Linked DNA regions of Homo sapiens: regions 2, 3 and 4 are each reported to be linked to region 1. Evidence: microRNA targets listed by miRTarBase, many of them from high-throughput screens and not tested one by one. Region 1 holds a microRNA gene; each other region holds the end of a gene's coding sequence.
What was found. Region 1 holds the annotated microRNA hsa-miR-2467-3p (AGCAGAGGCAGAGAGGCUCAGG, at 2,489-2,510, opposite strand). A microRNA usually pairs through its seed, bases 2 to 8, with sites in the 3' UTR of a target mRNA and lowers its output. Matches are read on the target gene's strand: a 7mer-m8 pairs with bases 2 to 8, a 7mer-A1 pairs with bases 2 to 7 and ends in A, and an 8mer does both.

Region 1 (4,065 bases):
GGAGGGAGGGGAGGTGCAGCCAGGTAGGCCCCGAACACCACGTTGCCAGGACTCGGCTCCTCGGCTCAAGGAAAAGGGACAGCGGTTCCGTGGCTGTGCTCTGACACACCTAGAAATTTCCCGCTCAAGAGAGCAAACTGAATCCTTTAGTATTAATGATTTCTCTTCCTCCCAAAACCCACTAAAATGATGAAAAGCAGGATTGGAAAGCACTTCCAGCAATGCCTGGGAGCGGACGGACAGGTGCATCAGCTGACAAGAAACACAGAGGAACTTCCCGAAACTAGAGATCTCTGGGGATGGAGCTGCTTGGGAAGGCACACAAGCGAGTGGGCCTCGCCCAGGAGGGAGGGCACGGTTCTGGGCAAGCCCCATCCCCCGCCTGAGACGTGGGCAGAGGCCGCTGGGCCACCAGCCAGTGTGTGCAGGTGGTGGTATGCACGTGTTGGGCACAAGGGGTCCTGCCTCCCAAGGGACCTCCGGGCGGAAGGGCAGACACGGCAGGGAAAGATGACAGCGGACAGGGCAGAGGAGGCAGCCAGCAGACTTCAGGCCCCAGGCAAACCACCTCAGCTGTACCCCCTGCACAGATGGAGAGCAGAGAATGGGCTGGGCCAAGGGGCAGCCCTGCCCTCACCAGTGCGGCCTGTCTTCAGCCTCCAACCCACTGAGAGAGAGAATGGAGAGGTCGTGGGTGGCAATAAGGCGCACACAACCCAACTCACATGGGCAGGACAGGCCCGGGCAGGCCGGTGATCAAACTGAACCGCAGCGGCTGAAATTCCCACAGAAAAGGCCAAACAAACCCAGCACCCCGCGGTTTCCAGAGCTGAGCCTCAAAGAACCCGGCCTGAAAAGGTTAGAGACAAGCGGATGGAGAAATATTTGTTAGCCAAAAGAAACCAAGGGTAGAAATACCTCATGAAACACTATAAGCTCTCGGTCAAAGAAACATTAAACAAAGAGAAATATATTATATTTTGATAAGAGACCTGATCTACCAAAAGAACAGTCATTAATTTTTAAGCTTTAAAAAAAAACACTGAACTATATAAAGCAAAAAATGGTTATTAATGTAAAAAGAATATTATAAGACTATAATCACAGTAGAAAAATACACTTTTCCAAGAAATCGAGCAGACAGAAAAAAATAAGTAAAGCTATACTGATTTAAATAACTCAACTGAGTTAATATATAATTAAAACAACATATAAAGAAAGGATACATATCCTCCTATATATAAATAAAATATATATAAATGAGAGAACTTTTTTTTTTGAGACGGAGTCTTGCTCTGTCGCCAGGCTGAAGTACAGTGGCGCAATCTCAGCTCACTGCAACCTCTGCCTCCCAGGTTCAAGCGATTATCCTGCCTGAGCCTCCTGGGTAGCTGGGACTACAGGCACACGCCACCACGCCCAGCTAATTTTTGTATTTTTAGTAGAGATGGGGTTTCACTATGTTGGTCAGAATGGTCTCAATCTCTTGACCTTGTGATCTGCCCACCCTGACCTTCCGAAGTGCTGGGATTACAGCTGTGGGCCTCTGCGCCCGGCCGAGAACTTTAAATACAATATTGATACATACATACAGACGTCTTTAGACTGAAACAAAATCCTAAGAGCATACTTTCTCTTCAAATGCCTGCAGAGCATGTACAAATTATGATTATGTGTACACCAAGTCATACAAAAATATGCACCCCCATTAAAATAATCAAGTGTACTCAAACAATAATTTTCCCATAGCACACTGACAAAAATGAGAGAGACTGAACCTACCCAGTGCTGGTACAGCACAAATGAAAAATATGCATCCTCTTACACTGGAATTAGGAAGATCAGTTGGAACGAGGCTTCTGGAGCAATTTGACAGTCAACCTAATGATGTTTTAAGTGCACGGGCTCACTGACCCAGCTTCCACTTCCTGGAATTTGTCTAGTAGTGATACTTAGAAGTTTACAAAATATATGTATAATAATTGTTTGATGCCAATTTGGAATTGGTATAAACACTGCTACAACCACATAAATATCCATTCGCAAGGTATCAAAAGAGCAAGTTATATTTGCACACATACTGATACCAAAAGATGCTTATAACACATTAAAATGGACAGAATGTAAAACACAGGGCCCTGCCTATAGAATTATACTCTATGAAAATGCTCACACACATCACACTATGTTTAGACACAGAAAAAAGATACACTCTCACCCAACAGCAGCCCAGTGTAGGAGGGAGAGAGCCAGCTCCATTCAATGTCTATTTAGACACTTTGAGCCATAGCGCTTAATTTTGTCTTGGAATGATCATAAACCATTTCTTTACATCAGTCAATACATAAACAATTTAACTCAATAAAACTTTCATATCTAAAAAAACCTGGAATCTTGCCCTCTGGAATTTTCAGACAAAGACGATTCCACCCAGGGAAAGATGTGTGTAAGCGTTCCGGCAATCTCAAAGAGAGTGACCCAGACAGACCCTGAGCCTCTCTGCCTCTGCTCTAAGGAGCAGGACCCAGAGCCAAGGCTAACAGAGCCTCAGGTGCCTGTCCAAGCGTCTGTCCAGTGGCCACCGTCTTCTCTCTCATGTGGACGCAAGACAGAAGTCGATGGCTAAGTGCCCTTGAAGGCCACGGTGCGCTGGAAGTGGCAGGAAGCTGGGCAGCACAGGACTGGCTCTGCAGGAGCCCCACACTCAGGCAGGTCGGCGGCAGGCCTCGAGGTTTCATTATGGTGCACGCTCTCGGTGACTTTCCAAGGACAGAAAGTGTGAAGTCGTAAATGGATGGGCCCATGACATGCTTCTGAAGCTCAGAGCAGGACAAGCTTGCTTCCCAATCATGTGGGTCCCCCACCTACCAGCTCTGTGACCTCAGGCAAATTACTTCTTCCCTCCAGGCCTGAGATGATCTGGGGCTGTACTAAATGCTTGTAAAATGCTTAGTGCAGCCCCTCACAGAGGCCCTCAAACACCAGGAGCAACTGTGGCCACGACCTCAGTGGGAACATGAGCTTCTTCCCAGACAGCCCAGACGCCCAGTTGGAGGAGCACTCCCACCCCTCACACAACCCCTCATGAAACAACAAAGACACTGGGCAAGAAACCAGCTCTCCACATCACAACCTGACCTTTCAACATCACCCTTGTCAAAAAGCATCGAGGAAACCTGTGTGCCTCTCAAGTCAGCCTGCAAACCGGGGTCGCAGACTTGACTCCACATCCTCCCAGGTTTTATCATTCTTCTTTCACCAAGAGGAAGAATAAACCATCCATTTTGCACTTTGTGCTGTCAAAAACCAACAGTGACCACTATCAAGAAAAACAAAAGTCTCAAATCCAGAAAGCAAGCTGCAGTCACAAGAACTTCTACTTTGGGCAAAGAAAGCCCCGCTGTGTGCCCAGAGAAGAAATGACCCGGCCTTACCTGGATGGCTTTGGGAGCTCATTGCTAGCAATGTCCACTCCTTTAAGTGATTCGAAATGGCTCAAAATTTCCACGGAAACGATAGCTCCAACGAGCTCCAAACTCCCACCAACACATACAAGTACCGGGACGGTGAGGGCTGGGTCACAGACGTTCAAGCGCCGAGCCTCGCCGGCAAGGTCTCATGAGCCAGGTAACCCACAAGTTGAACAGAGGCGTCCGCTGGCTTCTGCAGATGAACCTGCAAGGTCAGAAGGAGAAAAGAGACTGGAGTTACAACATGGAAGTTCCGATCTGGAAAACAACATCCAACTAGGGAAATGATGACTTCCTCTTTTTTTTTGGAGACAGAATCTTGCTCTATCGCCCAGGCTGGAGTGTGGTGGCACGATCTGGGCTCACTGCAACCTCCACCACCCCTGCAACCCTGGGTTCGAGCAATTCTCCTGCCTCAGCCTCCCGAGTAGCTGGGAACACAGGTGCATGCCACCAGGCACAGCTAATTTTTGTATTTTTAGTAGAAACGGGGTTTTGCCATGTTGGCCCAGGCTGGTCTCAAACTCCTGACCTCAAGTGATCCACCCACCTCAGCCTCCCAAAGTGCTGGGATTACAGGCTTGAGCCACCACGC
Region 2 (4,065 bases), not on the chromosome of region 1:
ACTAAAAATACAAAATTAGCTGGGCGTGGTGGCACGCACCTGTAATCCCAGCTACTCAGGAGGATGAGGCAGGTGAATCCCTTAAATTCTGGAGGCGGAGGTTGCAGTGAGCCAAGATGCACCACTGCACTCCTGCCTGGATGACAGAGCAAGACTCCATCTCAAAAAAAAAAAGGCCAGGCGAGGTGGCTCATGTCTGTAATCCCAGCACTTTGGGAGGCCGAGGCGGGTGGATCATGAGGTCAGGAGTTCAAGATCAGCGTGGCCAACATGGTGAAACCCCGTCTCTACTAAAAATACAAAAATTATCTGGGCATGGTGGCGTGTGCCTGTAATCTCAGCTACTCGGGAGACGAGGCAGGAGAATCGCTTGAACCGTGATCTGGGAGGCAGAGGTAGCAGTGAACAAGATCATGCCACTGCACTCCAACCTGGGTTACAGAGCGAGACTGTCTCAAAAAAAAAAAAAAAAAAATTAGTCAAGCTTGGTTGCGTGCCCCTGTAATCCCAAGCTACTTGAGAGGCTGAGGTGGGAGAACTGCTTGAACCCTGGAGGCGGAGGCTGCAGTAAGCTAAGATTGGGCCACTGCACTCCAGCCTGGGTGACAGAGCAAGACCCCATCTCGAAAATAAATAAATAATAAAAAAAATTGGCCAGGTGTGGTGGCGTGCACCTGTAATCCCAGCTACTTGGGAAGCTGAGGCAGGAGAATCGCTTGAACCCGGGAGGCAGAGGTCAGAGGTTGCAGTGAGCTGAGATCATGCCACTGCACTCCAGCCTGGGTGACAGAGCTGGCATGCAAAAAAAAAAAAAAAAAATTAGCTGGGTGTGGTGGCACATGCCTGTAATCCCAGCTACTTGGGAGGTTGAGGCAGGAGAATTGCCTGAACCTGGGGCTAACCACTGGAAAGAGAGCACAGCCTCAAGCCACACTCAGCCTCAAGTCATCCAGGTGACCCAGAGAACAAGGGCCTGGAAGAAGCGGGTGAGTGGGTGAGGTGGAGGTGTAGATTGGAGTCCTAGGCCTTTGGGAGGCCCTCCAACCTCCCTTCTGCACCAACTTCTCCTGGGTGGCTGTGGCAGGCAGCTTTCCCTCCTGGGCTGTAAGGGGATAGATGCAGGTGAGGTGACTGTAGTGGTCTATTTTCAAGGATGCCCTTATTCTTGGGGGCAAGATGGAACAGCAGGAAGAAAGGGTGTGGGTGCTGGGCTGACAGAGGCCCCGATGCTGGCTCCGCCCATCCTGGCTGCACTGGTGAGCGGCATCATAGGAGAAGCTCCCAGAGTCCAGAGTTGGGAGAGCCAGATGGGATCAGGGAACCTCCCAGCATCAACCCTGGCCCTTCCTCATGGCCCCTAAAGCCCTGCAGGGTATGGCTCTGCAGGCTACCCAGCCTCATCCATCTGGAATGCACCAGGCTAGACCTGGCCCCAGGGTCTTTGTACTGGGCGTGCTGTTGCCCAGACCTGGGGCTGTCGGCTTCCTGCATGGGCAGACCCTTGCCATCGCTGAAATATCAGCGCACACATCCCCTGGGAGAGGTCTTCCTGGGCCTCCAGCTGTGCCTTCTCACAGGCTGCATCCAGACATTCACATCCTCTCCCCTGGACCCCATCTGTCTCTTGTTTTGAGATGAAGTCTCCCTGTGTTGCCCAGGCTGCAGTGTAGTCCCATGATCTCGGTTCACTGCAACCTCTGCCTCCCGAGTAGCTGGGATTACAGGCATGTGCCACTACACCCAGCTAATTTTTGTATTTTAAGTAGAGCTGGGGTTTCACTATGTTGGGCAGGCTGGTCTGGAACTCCTGAGCTCAAGTGATCCACCCACCTCGGCCTCCCAAAGTGCTGGGATTACAGGTGGGAACCACTGTGCCTGGTGCACTTTTTTTTTAAACATAGATGGAATCTCACTGTGTTGACCAGGCTGGGCTCAAGCGACCCTCCCACCCTGGCTTCCAAAGAGCTGAAATTACAGGCCATGACACTACACCCCACCTCTTTATTAAAAAAAAAAAAAGGCCGGGCGCGGTGGCTCACGCCTGTAATCCCAGCACTTTGGGAGGCCAAGGCAGGTGGATCACGAGGTCAGGAGATCCAGACCATCCTGGCTAACACGGTGAAACCCCGTCTCTACCAAAAATACAAAAAATTAGCCAGGCGTGGTGGCAGGCGCCTGTAGTCTCAGCTACTCGGGAGGCTGAGGCAGGAGAATGGCATGAACCCGGGAGGCGGAGCTTGCAGTGAGCCAAGATCACGCCACTGCACTCCAGCCGGGGCCACAGAGCAAGACTCTGTCTCAAAAAAAAAAAAAAAAAAAAGAGCCGGGCACGGTGACTCACACCTGTAATCCCAGCACTTTGGGAGGCCTAGGCAGGCAGATCACAAGGTCAAGAGATCAAGACCATCCTGACCAACATGGTGAAACCCTGTCTCTACTAAAAATACAAAAATTAGCTGCGCATGGTGGCGTGCGCCTGTAGTCCCAGCTACTCGGGAGGCTGAGACAGAAGAATTGCTTGAACCCGGGAAGTGGAGGTTGCAGTGAGCAGAGATCGTGCCACTGTACTTCAGCCTGGTGACAGAGTGAGACTCCGTCTCAAAAATAAATAAATAAATAAATAAATAATAAAAAGAGAGACCTCACTCTGGTGAGGTCTTCCAGCCTAGGCTGGAGTGCAGTGGTGCAATCATAGCTCACTAAAGCCTCAAATTCCTGTGCTCAAGTCATCCTCCTACCATCTGTCTCTTTTGAATTCAGTACATCCACTAGGTAAAGCAATGATGCCACAGAACCCATGCAGCAGCCTCAAGGTAGGGCCCACTGGGGTCCTGGATTTCAGGTGAGTAAACAGTGAACGCTGGGGTAACGAGTGGAGCTGGGCAGTAACACCCCCAGAGTCCAGCTGAGTCAGACCTCTCAACCCACTTGCCCCTGCTACATCACCCCACTTCTCTATGCCTCAGTTTCTCCTCTGTAAAGTGAGTATGTTGTGCCCGGAGAGGAGACCCCCAGCTCCAGCTGGCTCAACCACATCCACCATGCTGTGTGACTCCAGATGCATCACAGGCTGTCTCTGGCCCAGCCCCAGACAGCGGGAGAAGAAAGCTCAGGAGTCCGTGGAAACTGCAGGGTGGGATGCTTTATTTCACTGTGGCGGGGAGGGAACCTGGACAGGGGGCGGCAGGCGGGGTGGGGGGCTGGCACTCAGGCGGGGACTAGGCAGGGGAAGGGCTGCCCCCAGGCCTGTTGAGGAGAAACTGAGGCCAGCCCTGGCGGAGACCTAGCCCAGCGGGGTAAGGAGGGTGGGGGAAAACTGGGTCTGAAGGAATGAGGGCCCCCTCCCTCTGGGCTTTCCTCCTAGAGGGCCTCAGTCCCTCCTGCTGGCTGGGCTGCACGACCCCCAATCCTTGCTCCCCTAACCCGGAGGAGGGGGCCAGACCAGGGAGGGCAGTGGACAGGGAGCCTGGGGGAGTTGGGGAGCGCAGGGCAGGGTCCATGGTGTGCAGAGGGGGTGGCAGCCACCTAGGTGGTCAGTTCCTGGCAGCGATGACCACAGAGAGTGCCACACCCCCCAAGGCAACAGCAGTCGCCCCAAACAGCCACTTCCATGGGATGGACTGTGGATAAAAAGGAGGGGAGAGAAGGGTGGAGGGAGGTCAAGACTGGCCTCTGGGGCCTCAGCTGCCAGCACAGCCCAAACAGACCTCCCAACAAATCATTGCCTGACTATGTATTTCCCACTTCCTGGCAAACTCCTACTCATGCAGCAAAACCCAAATCAAATGGCCCCTCCTCCAGGACACCGCCCCTCGTGCCCTGGAAGAGGCTCCACAGTCCACCCCCAGCCCTCCAGCTTGAGTTCCACCTTCGACTCCACTCATGATCACACAGGGCTGGGCTCTCTCCACGTCCCCTGCATCGCCCAGGACGGCCCAGTCTCCGAGGACATCCATGTATGCAAAATAAAATCCCTCTGCTAGGCGTGCCCTGCACACAGCCCCTGCCCATTCTGTGCCCCAGCTCACCCAGGCACCCTTGCCAGGGCACTTAGCAGGCAGCCGG
Region 3 (4,065 bases), not on the chromosome of region 1:
GGTTCTTGCGGGGGTACAGCTCCGACATGACTGGTTGCACGATGCTGAAAACCACTGTTAAATCAAGTTTAGCCTAAAGCTGCCTCCTTACATATTTTAAGTTTGGCCTAAAGGTTTCTCTGTACATCATGAACTATAACGTAAATGGAATAGTATACGGACTCTAGTCTACTCTTGTGCCAGTCACTGAGTTTGGCCAATCGAAGATGGCCAATGATTCAAACTATTCAAATAAGGCAAACACCGAGCTGTAACCAATCCGGCTATTTCTGTACCTCACTTCTGTTTCCTGTACATGACTTTCCTTTTGCTGTCCATAAATCTTCCACCACGTGGCTGCGCTGGAGTCTCTGAGTCCACTCTGGCTCAGGAGACTGCCTGATTCATGAATCATTCTGTGCTCAATTAAACTCTTTTAAATTTAATTCAGCTTTTAATACCACAAACCCCCATCTTTTTCACATGACAATTCCCACCTTTTATGTAGATATGCACACACCAAAAGGTAGCCAAAGGGTACAAAGAAGTTTATTGACTATGATGCAGTAAAGATACCAAGAGTTACAATATTTGTGCATATGGCCCAACAGTGCCTACCCTCCTACAAAACAAAAACAAAAACAAAAAAAGGCAATGAGGTGCAGCAGTTAACAGCCCAACACTGGAGTCAAAGGAATGGAGCTGCCTCTTCTGGCAGCAAAGTTTCAAGTTGTGCAATTAAATAATAGTCTTGGTCCACTCCTTGTGGGTCTTCTTACAGTTTCCCTTTAGAACCATAACTGAGTGACTTAGTAGAACATTCATATTCAGGATGTGGCCTCCAGAAGTGTCGTTTTGTTTTGTTTTGAACAAAGACGTGCTACCTTCTCTCTTGAAGCACCAGTGCTGGGTTCAGGAGCTACAGAGGACTAAGATGTTCCCCAAGTAGCCTGAAGTAACAGGTCACATGGAAAACACAAAGCAATTGGTGAGTCCACATTTTGTAATAGAATTAAGAGCGTAATGCATAAAACTTAAAGTCATGTAACCACATGTAAAAACTTCAGCAGCTAAAGAAAAATTCTGGAAGGCTTTTAACCCCTTCTGAACTAAGTTCCCTTTCTAAACGAGGCTGGTTTCCATGGCTGTGACAAGAGCTCATGAGGTAGCAAAAAGAGAGAGAGAATAGCACCTTAGAAGTTACTCAAACAAGAGGTGAAACAAATAAGTAAACAAAAAAAGACCACTTTATCTTCCTTTCATCCTTAAAGAAGGCAGGTGTCTGTACACTGCTTTGTGATCCTTCGAAGAATAAAAAGCTGTAACCCAAATCTCAGTATAAGGGATGAAGAAGGAAAATGATAGCAGCTGATGACTGGGATGCGACCACAAACCCATATAGTAAACTAAGTTATCAACGTACTCCCTTACCACGAAGGACTTCATTCAGTCATTTAAAAAGCAAGGGACTAGTTCAAATCATGATTAAGGCTATAAAAGAACACGACTGAGTATTCACAGAGCACCAATTACCTCAAGTTTAGACTAGGTGTCAATCTACAAACATACTACCCTGCATTAATCTTCACAACACACCTGCGAGGACATTACAAGAAGGCCCAGCCAAAATTAGTTCCTCATTTAATGGGATATGGCTTTCAGTGGGTTCCTGTAACACCATCTCTTTCTTGGAGAAATGAGGACCTGCAAAATAGTCCCCCTCACAATGAGATCTCTATCTTCAAATCTCTGAGAGCCCAAGTTATTTACTCTCATTGCTCAAGTTGCTTTCCTCTCTCTGTTGAGGTGTCAGAAATGGTCACGTTAGATTGGCCTCAGACAACCACAAAAGTTAACAAGCAGTCCCAAAGTACCGTGAGGTTTAACCACTGGAAATGTAAACTGCCGGTCCTGTCTTTGCCCTTCTACTTCCTCGCGTGACCAGAGTCAAATCACAATGTCCTTCAACTAACCAGATTCGCTCATCTGTGGACTAGGTTAACAGAAGAGGCTAGGCCAAATCTATGATACGGATCTAACAACCCAAATTTTTTAAATTAAGTCTTCAAAAAAAAAAGAAAGAAGTTGAGAGAGAGAAAAGTGATTTTTAAACTAACATATACAGTCTGAAGCGCTGTAATATGGAAACTTCCTGAACCACCTAATGAAAAATCATGAAAAGGGATCAACCTGTTGAAAGAATAGAGACAGGTGAGGGGATAATTTTTGTCTCTCATAATTGAGAAGTAAATCCAATCACTATTACAGAAGACTATTTATATATGCACCATCCATCTTTACTGATATACTATACATATGCCTTAATGGCTTATAAAAAATCCTATGTAAATTAACATTTGAAACAAGTTGTCATAGCAGAATGGAGTAACCTGCTGTAAGGCACTGAGAGAATACAAAGGAGAAGTATGTCATGCACAATCTCACTTCCTCATCTCAAATATTATGTAAAAACCACTTGCAAATACCATAGTTTACTCACAGTTGGCACATTTTAGAAATCAACAAAGTTTTGAAAAACAATACAAGTGAAAAGATGATTTAATTTGCAAAGAACTCCTGAAATACTCCATAAGCCCCCCACTAAAAACCTGTAAAGAGTTTTTCTTGCCTCTGACCTGAAAATTCAAGAAGAAAAGTTGTAGTTATAAGAAAATAAAATAACAGGCCAAGCACAGTGGCTCATGCCTGTAATCCCAACACTTTGGGAGGCCGAGGCAGGTGGATCACGAGGTCAGGGGATTGAGACCATCCTGGCCAAAATGGTGAAACCCCGTCTCTACTAAAAACACAAAAATTAGCTGGGTGTGGTGGCGCATGCCTGTAATCCCAGCTACTCGAGAGGCTGAGGCACAAGAATCGCTTGAACCCAGGAGGCAGAGGTTGCAGTGAGCCAAGATCACACCACTGCACTCCAGCCTGGCGACAGAGTGAGACTCTGCCTCAAAAAAAAAAAAAAAAAAAAAAAAGCAAGACAGAAAATAACAAAGACTCCTTAGCCCAAATTGTACCAGCAAGACTAAAGAAAATAATTTTTCTACTTCACGATTCCTTTCCTTAACTGTAAATTGATGACACTGTACTTAATACTTTAAAAACCCAGTCAAAGCAAACCAATGACTTGATCCTACCAACTCTAAGGAAACTAAGGGTATACACCCTAAGTTATCCAAACACAACTGAGGTTGAGGTCATTAAACCGGTAAGTATACGCCCTATACTAACTCACAGCTGAAAGTGTACATGGAGCAAAAAACAAAGAATACATATCCCAAGCGAATATTTTGTCTGGTGACACATCAGGAAGCCACAAGCTCCACTTCATTTAAAAAATTATTTGGGTATCAGCGGTGTGGCAAACATTCAAAATTCTCCTTCAAACAGTTGGAAGAAAACATGTAATACATTCCAGAGCAAAGATGAATCAAAAAGTATCTTTTTGCTCAGGAAAAGAATTTCTTCATTCAATTACAGCATAATTCATTGAAAGGGGAAGTCATGAGTCTCTTATGAGAGTTCCTGAACAGTTTATAAATACAACAAGAACATTTATTCAATAAATAAGTGGTTCCTAAAGTCTTTACTGATGATCTCCAGGATTGTCCATCGCTATGGTCCAGGCCAGCTCCACTTTCTCTGACAGGCTTTAGCTGCCAGTGGAATGGGATGTTTCCTGTCTTTAGGTGACTCTTCTTGTGTCATACAGACTTTCATCAATATGTCTCTTCATAGTCTGAATCCTGGAGGGAGCAAAACAGCAGGTGTGAAACACAATTCCAGAGTTGGAATTTAGGCAAAGACCACATGTTAGGATCCTCCAAATGGAACCTGGCTTGGGGAGACAGCCACAGTGAAATGCCACTGACTCAATACACCTAAATTCCCACGGAGCTTCACAGGACCTCAATATAATTGGTGTCTATTGGGCTAATTTCTGCTTTGAAGCCCTAGTGGTTTCCTTTCCCTTGGTGAATATTTTTTAGAACCTCAACACACAAGAAAAGATGCCCGCCTACCGCACCCTTTCTTAGCAAAACAAGTGTCAGTGGAATCACCCCAGCGATCCTC
Region 4 (4,000 bases), not on the chromosome of region 1:
TAGAGGGCATGGCAGCCTTCAGGGAGAAGCGGACTCCCAAATTTGTTGGCAAATGACCCCCATTTTAACCTTCAGCATGGGAGATGCATGCCCTGAAGAGCAGGATCCAGAAGGAAGATTTGTGGCCAGATTGCCTTCATCATTTCACCTCTCCAGACTTCCATTTCTTCACAAGGATGATGATGGAAATAAAATGACTGGCGTGATGCCTGGAACCAAGGTGCTGATCCTACCACCTACTGCTACCTTCCTTAGCTTCACCCTGGCTAGAAATAATCACGAGGGTTGGGTTTGCTTTGGAAAATGCCTGTCTCTCTACTTGAATGATAAAGAATTAAATTAGATCTCTCTGAGTCTTGGTATCATTGGCTCTCAGCCCCTGACCTCTCTCAGTTATCAGGCACTCATTAGAGATGTCAGAAGATTTTAAGATACCCCTAGTTTCTTCCTGTGAACAACAGAGGTAATAAATAAACTCTGACATCGGTTGAACATGTGTCAGGGGTCAGACTGCAGATCCCAGTCTCTGCCAGTTACTTGCTGTATAACCGTGGACAAATTGTTTAAATGCTCTGGGCCTCAGCTTCCTCACCTACAAAACAAAACTTGTGAAGATTTAGCAAAATAAAAACACTTCATATTCAATAAATATGTTTTAATTGTTAACTTACAGTGTTTTCGTGAGGACCAAACGAAATCATCACTGTGAAACACTTTTGTAAACTACAGGGTGGCAGAAAATTCTTTTTATTTTTTGAGACAGGGTCTCACTCTGCCACCCAGGCTCCAGGCTAGAGTGCAGTGGCGCCATCTCAGGTCACTGCAGCCTCCACTTCCCAGGCTCAAGTGATCCTCCCACCTCAGCCTCTGGAGTAGCTGGGACTACAGGCAAATGCCACCATGCCCAGCTAATTTTTGTATTTTTTTGTAGAGACAGGATTTCGCCATATCACCCAGGCTGGTCTTGAACTATTGGGCTCAAGCAATCCGCCCGCCTGGGCCTCCCAAAGTGCTGGGATTACAGGTGTATGCCACTACACCTAGCCTCCAGGAGACTCTTTGATAGCATTTAGGAGCACTGAGAAGAAAGGGGCAATTAACTCTAATGGAAAGAAGGGAGGATCCGGAAATGGGCAACTAACATTGGAATTGAAGCCTGAAGGATTAAGGAACATTTCAAGTACAGAAGAGGAAGCTTGACACAGCATGAGCAAAGGTGAGGAAGAGGATGATACACTTAGAAAACCAAGAGCAGGCTGATACATAACCATACTGGTCCCAATACCCCTCCCTCCTCTGGTACCAAGGCTACATCTTAAGCTATGCCTTTGCAGTCATTCTCCAACTGGATCTGAGCGCTGGCTAAGCTGAGCCTCAGCCTGGCCTAGAGTCACTAAACCATGGGCATGGATACAATATAAATAACATTGCGGATTTCTGCAAAATACAAATGTGCTCCCAGGGTTATGCTTGCATCCTGGAAGGAAGAATAACACAGGAGAGCCCAGGCCTTTACAGTCAGCACAAACCACACCAGCTATGACAACCCAGGAAAGTAACCACCTTACTGAACTTCCTTTTTCTCATCTGTTAAGTGAGGAAAATAAAACTCACCTACCCGTGAGGATTGTTGTGAATGACACAGAACTTGAAAGGATGTCTTGTACAGAATTGGACTTAACACACTAGTTCCCCTAACACATCCTCACATTAGAATAAGCTAGCATCTGATAACAATGCTCTGAGGTACTAGAACCCAGGTCAGGAAGATATCCTTTTGGAATCATGCAAGAGTGTGAAAAAATACAGTACAGTTTAAGGACTATGGAAGGAAGTAAGGTTACAAATTCTGCTTATCTGGTTGGACTCTGGTAATAGTTTGGAACATGGTTTAGAGTAAGAGAATGAGCTTCTTCCTCATTTGATTTCCAAAGACAGTACATGGTACTCTAGTTAAGAATCTGAACCAAGCCAGCCAAAAGCACAAAAATCTAATCCTAAAATGTGCTAACAGAAATTTACTTTTATTTTCTGAAAAACTTAAACAGATAAATGACAAAACATGTTCATTAACAGTCAACAATAAGGCAAGGAAGGAATTCACACTATTCCTCAGAGCAGCTCCGCAAGGCTTATCAAGTAAGCTTCTGATATAGTTTATACTGTAGTTGAAGCTGGTTTCAGAAAAGCCCATGTTTTCTTTAGTCAGCATGCGGGGTAAGAAAACTCCGTGAACTCTCTGGCAAAGTCTCTTTCTGGCCTTTCGTCTTCCTACCATTTTTGGTCATGGTTCCACCCAAATAAAATGGAGGGATTCAGATTTATCATTACATGTAATCTTTCATCTAAACACTGTCTGCAAATGCCTAAGTCCCACCACGCCCTACAAGCTCACTCACATACACAGCATGTCATGCTCACATAACAGGAAACATGCCAAAGATAGACACCCAAAATTGTAAAAAGGCCAGGTGCAGTGACTCACACCTGTAATCCCAGCACTTTGGGAGGCCGAGACGGGTGGATCACGAGGTCAGGAGGTCGAGACCAGCCTGACCAATATGGTGAAACCCTGTCTCTACTAAAAAATACAAAAATTAGCCGGGCGTGGCGGCATGTGCCTGTAGTCCCAGCTACTCAGGAGGCTGAGGCAGGAGAATTGCTGGAACCTGGGAGGCAGAGGTTGCAGTGAGCCGAGATTGTGCCACTGCACTCCAGCCTGGGCGACAGAGCGAGATTCCGTCACAAAAAAAAAAAAAAAAAAAAAGGTAAAAAAATATATTTCTCTTTTCTCCACCCCTCTATTCATTTGAGATGAGGTCTCACTCTGTCATCCAGGCTGGAGTGCAGTGGTGCAATCTCAGCTCACTGCAACCTCTGCCTCCTGGGCTCAAGTGGTCCTCCCACCTCAGCCTCCAAGTAGCTAGGAGTAAAGGTGCACACCACCACGCTCAGCTAATTTTTGTATTTTTTGGTAGAGACGGAGTTTTACCACGTTGGCAAGGCTGATCTCGAACTCCTGAGTTCAGACAATCCACCTGCCTTGGCCTCCCAAAGTGCTGGGATTACAGGCGTGAGCCACCATACCCAGCCATAGATAAATAAATAAATAAATAAATTCTTTTCCCCGCTCTCCAACAGGGGTTCTGCCTTCTAAACACTACATTTTGAAGCATATGCTTCCCAAGCTTTTCTCATAGCTTCACATGACGATAACAACAAAGGAAATTTAATATAAATATCAAAGTCTCCCTGTAGGTTTCCTTTCTCTTCTAGTGAACAGGTCCCACTCCCATGACAAGCTCCCAAAGGGAAAAAATTGTCCAAGGCTAGAGAAAAGTAACTTGCATAGCTGTTCCAACACAAGCTCCCAGGCCTTCCCAGAGTCCACGGTTTGAGTCTTCAAAATTGCTGCTGAAAGGCTGCAGAATGAGTCCAACTTGACTTGGGATTACAGCTATCATACAAATCCAACCTTTTGTAACATATATAAAATCAACAATCAAAGGCCAATGAGACAGCCAACTCACAAACTCCAATGACAACTGATGTGCAATTACTGCCAGGGCAGAACACCTGACATTGAGGAAGAGCACACACCTCTGAAATTCCTTAGGTTCAGAAGGGCATTTGACACAGAGTGGGCCTCTGATAATTCATGAAATGCATTCTGAAGTCATCCAGAATGGAGGCTGCAATCTGCTGTGCTTTGGGGGTTGCCTCACTGTGCTCCTGGATATCACACAAAAGCTGCAATCCTTCTTCTTCAACTAACATTTTGCAGTATTTGCTGGCTGAAAGAAAATCAAGCAGAGACACTCCATGGACAACTGGCATTTTAAATACTCCCATGTCACCACATTCACCTTGCTGAAGAAACAATACAAAGGTTTAAGCTCTTTGGCCTAGGAATTAACAGATAAAATGAGTCAATTCTAAAGCAGTTCTTCAAAACTTGCTTGGCTTGTATGAGGTAACAGATGCTCATTTTAGTATGTTT

Region 2: the mRNA of FKBP8 is a reported target of hsa-miR-2467-3p. Seed matches in the 3' UTR shown: 8mer at 3,505-3,512.
Region 3: miRTarBase lists MPZL3 as a target of hsa-miR-2467-3p. Seed matches in the 3' UTR shown: 7mer-m8 at 2,874-2,880.
Region 4: the mRNA of ZYG11A is a reported target of hsa-miR-2467-3p. Seed matches in the 3' UTR shown: 7mer-m8 at 2,677-2,683.

What each region holds. Positions count from the first base shown.
Region 1 is chr2:239,349,244-239,353,308 of GRCh38, forward strand. MIR2467 (microRNA 2467) reads right to left here and starts at 2,561; the gene lies at 2,481-2,561. HDAC4 (histone deacetylase 4) reads right to left here. Exons shown (of 27, transcript NM_001378414.1): 2 at 3,435-3,675. The coding sequence starts at 3,456. RefSeq lists a silencer at 3,224-3,417.
Region 2 is chr19:18,528,636-18,532,700 of GRCh38, forward strand. It overlaps FKBP8 (FKBP prolyl isomerase 8), which reads right to left. Exons shown (of 9, transcript NM_012181.5): 8 at 4,029-4,065; 9 at 3,128-3,620. The coding sequence ends at 3,534. Among named protein-coding and RNA genes, the nearest start is that of ELL, 8.6 kb to the left of the region's middle. RefSeq lists an enhancer at 873-1,758.
Region 3 is chr11:118,226,184-118,230,248 of GRCh38, forward strand. It overlaps MPZL3 (myelin protein zero like 3), which reads right to left. Exons shown (of 6, transcript NM_198275.3): 6 at 507-3,737. The coding sequence ends at 3,711. Among named protein-coding and RNA genes, the nearest start is that of JAML, 3.2 kb to the left of the region's middle.
Region 4 is chr1:52,892,576-52,896,575 of GRCh38, reverse strand. ZYG11A (zyg-11 family member A, cell cycle regulator) reads right to left here. Exons shown (of 14, transcript NM_001004339.3): 14 at 1,578-3,794. The coding sequence ends at 3,619. It overlaps ECHDC2 (enoyl-CoA hydratase domain containing 2), which reads left to right. Exons shown (of 10, transcript NM_001198961.2): 10 at 1-666. The coding sequence ends at 56. Among named protein-coding and RNA genes, the nearest start is that of ECHDC2, 27 kb to the left of the region's middle.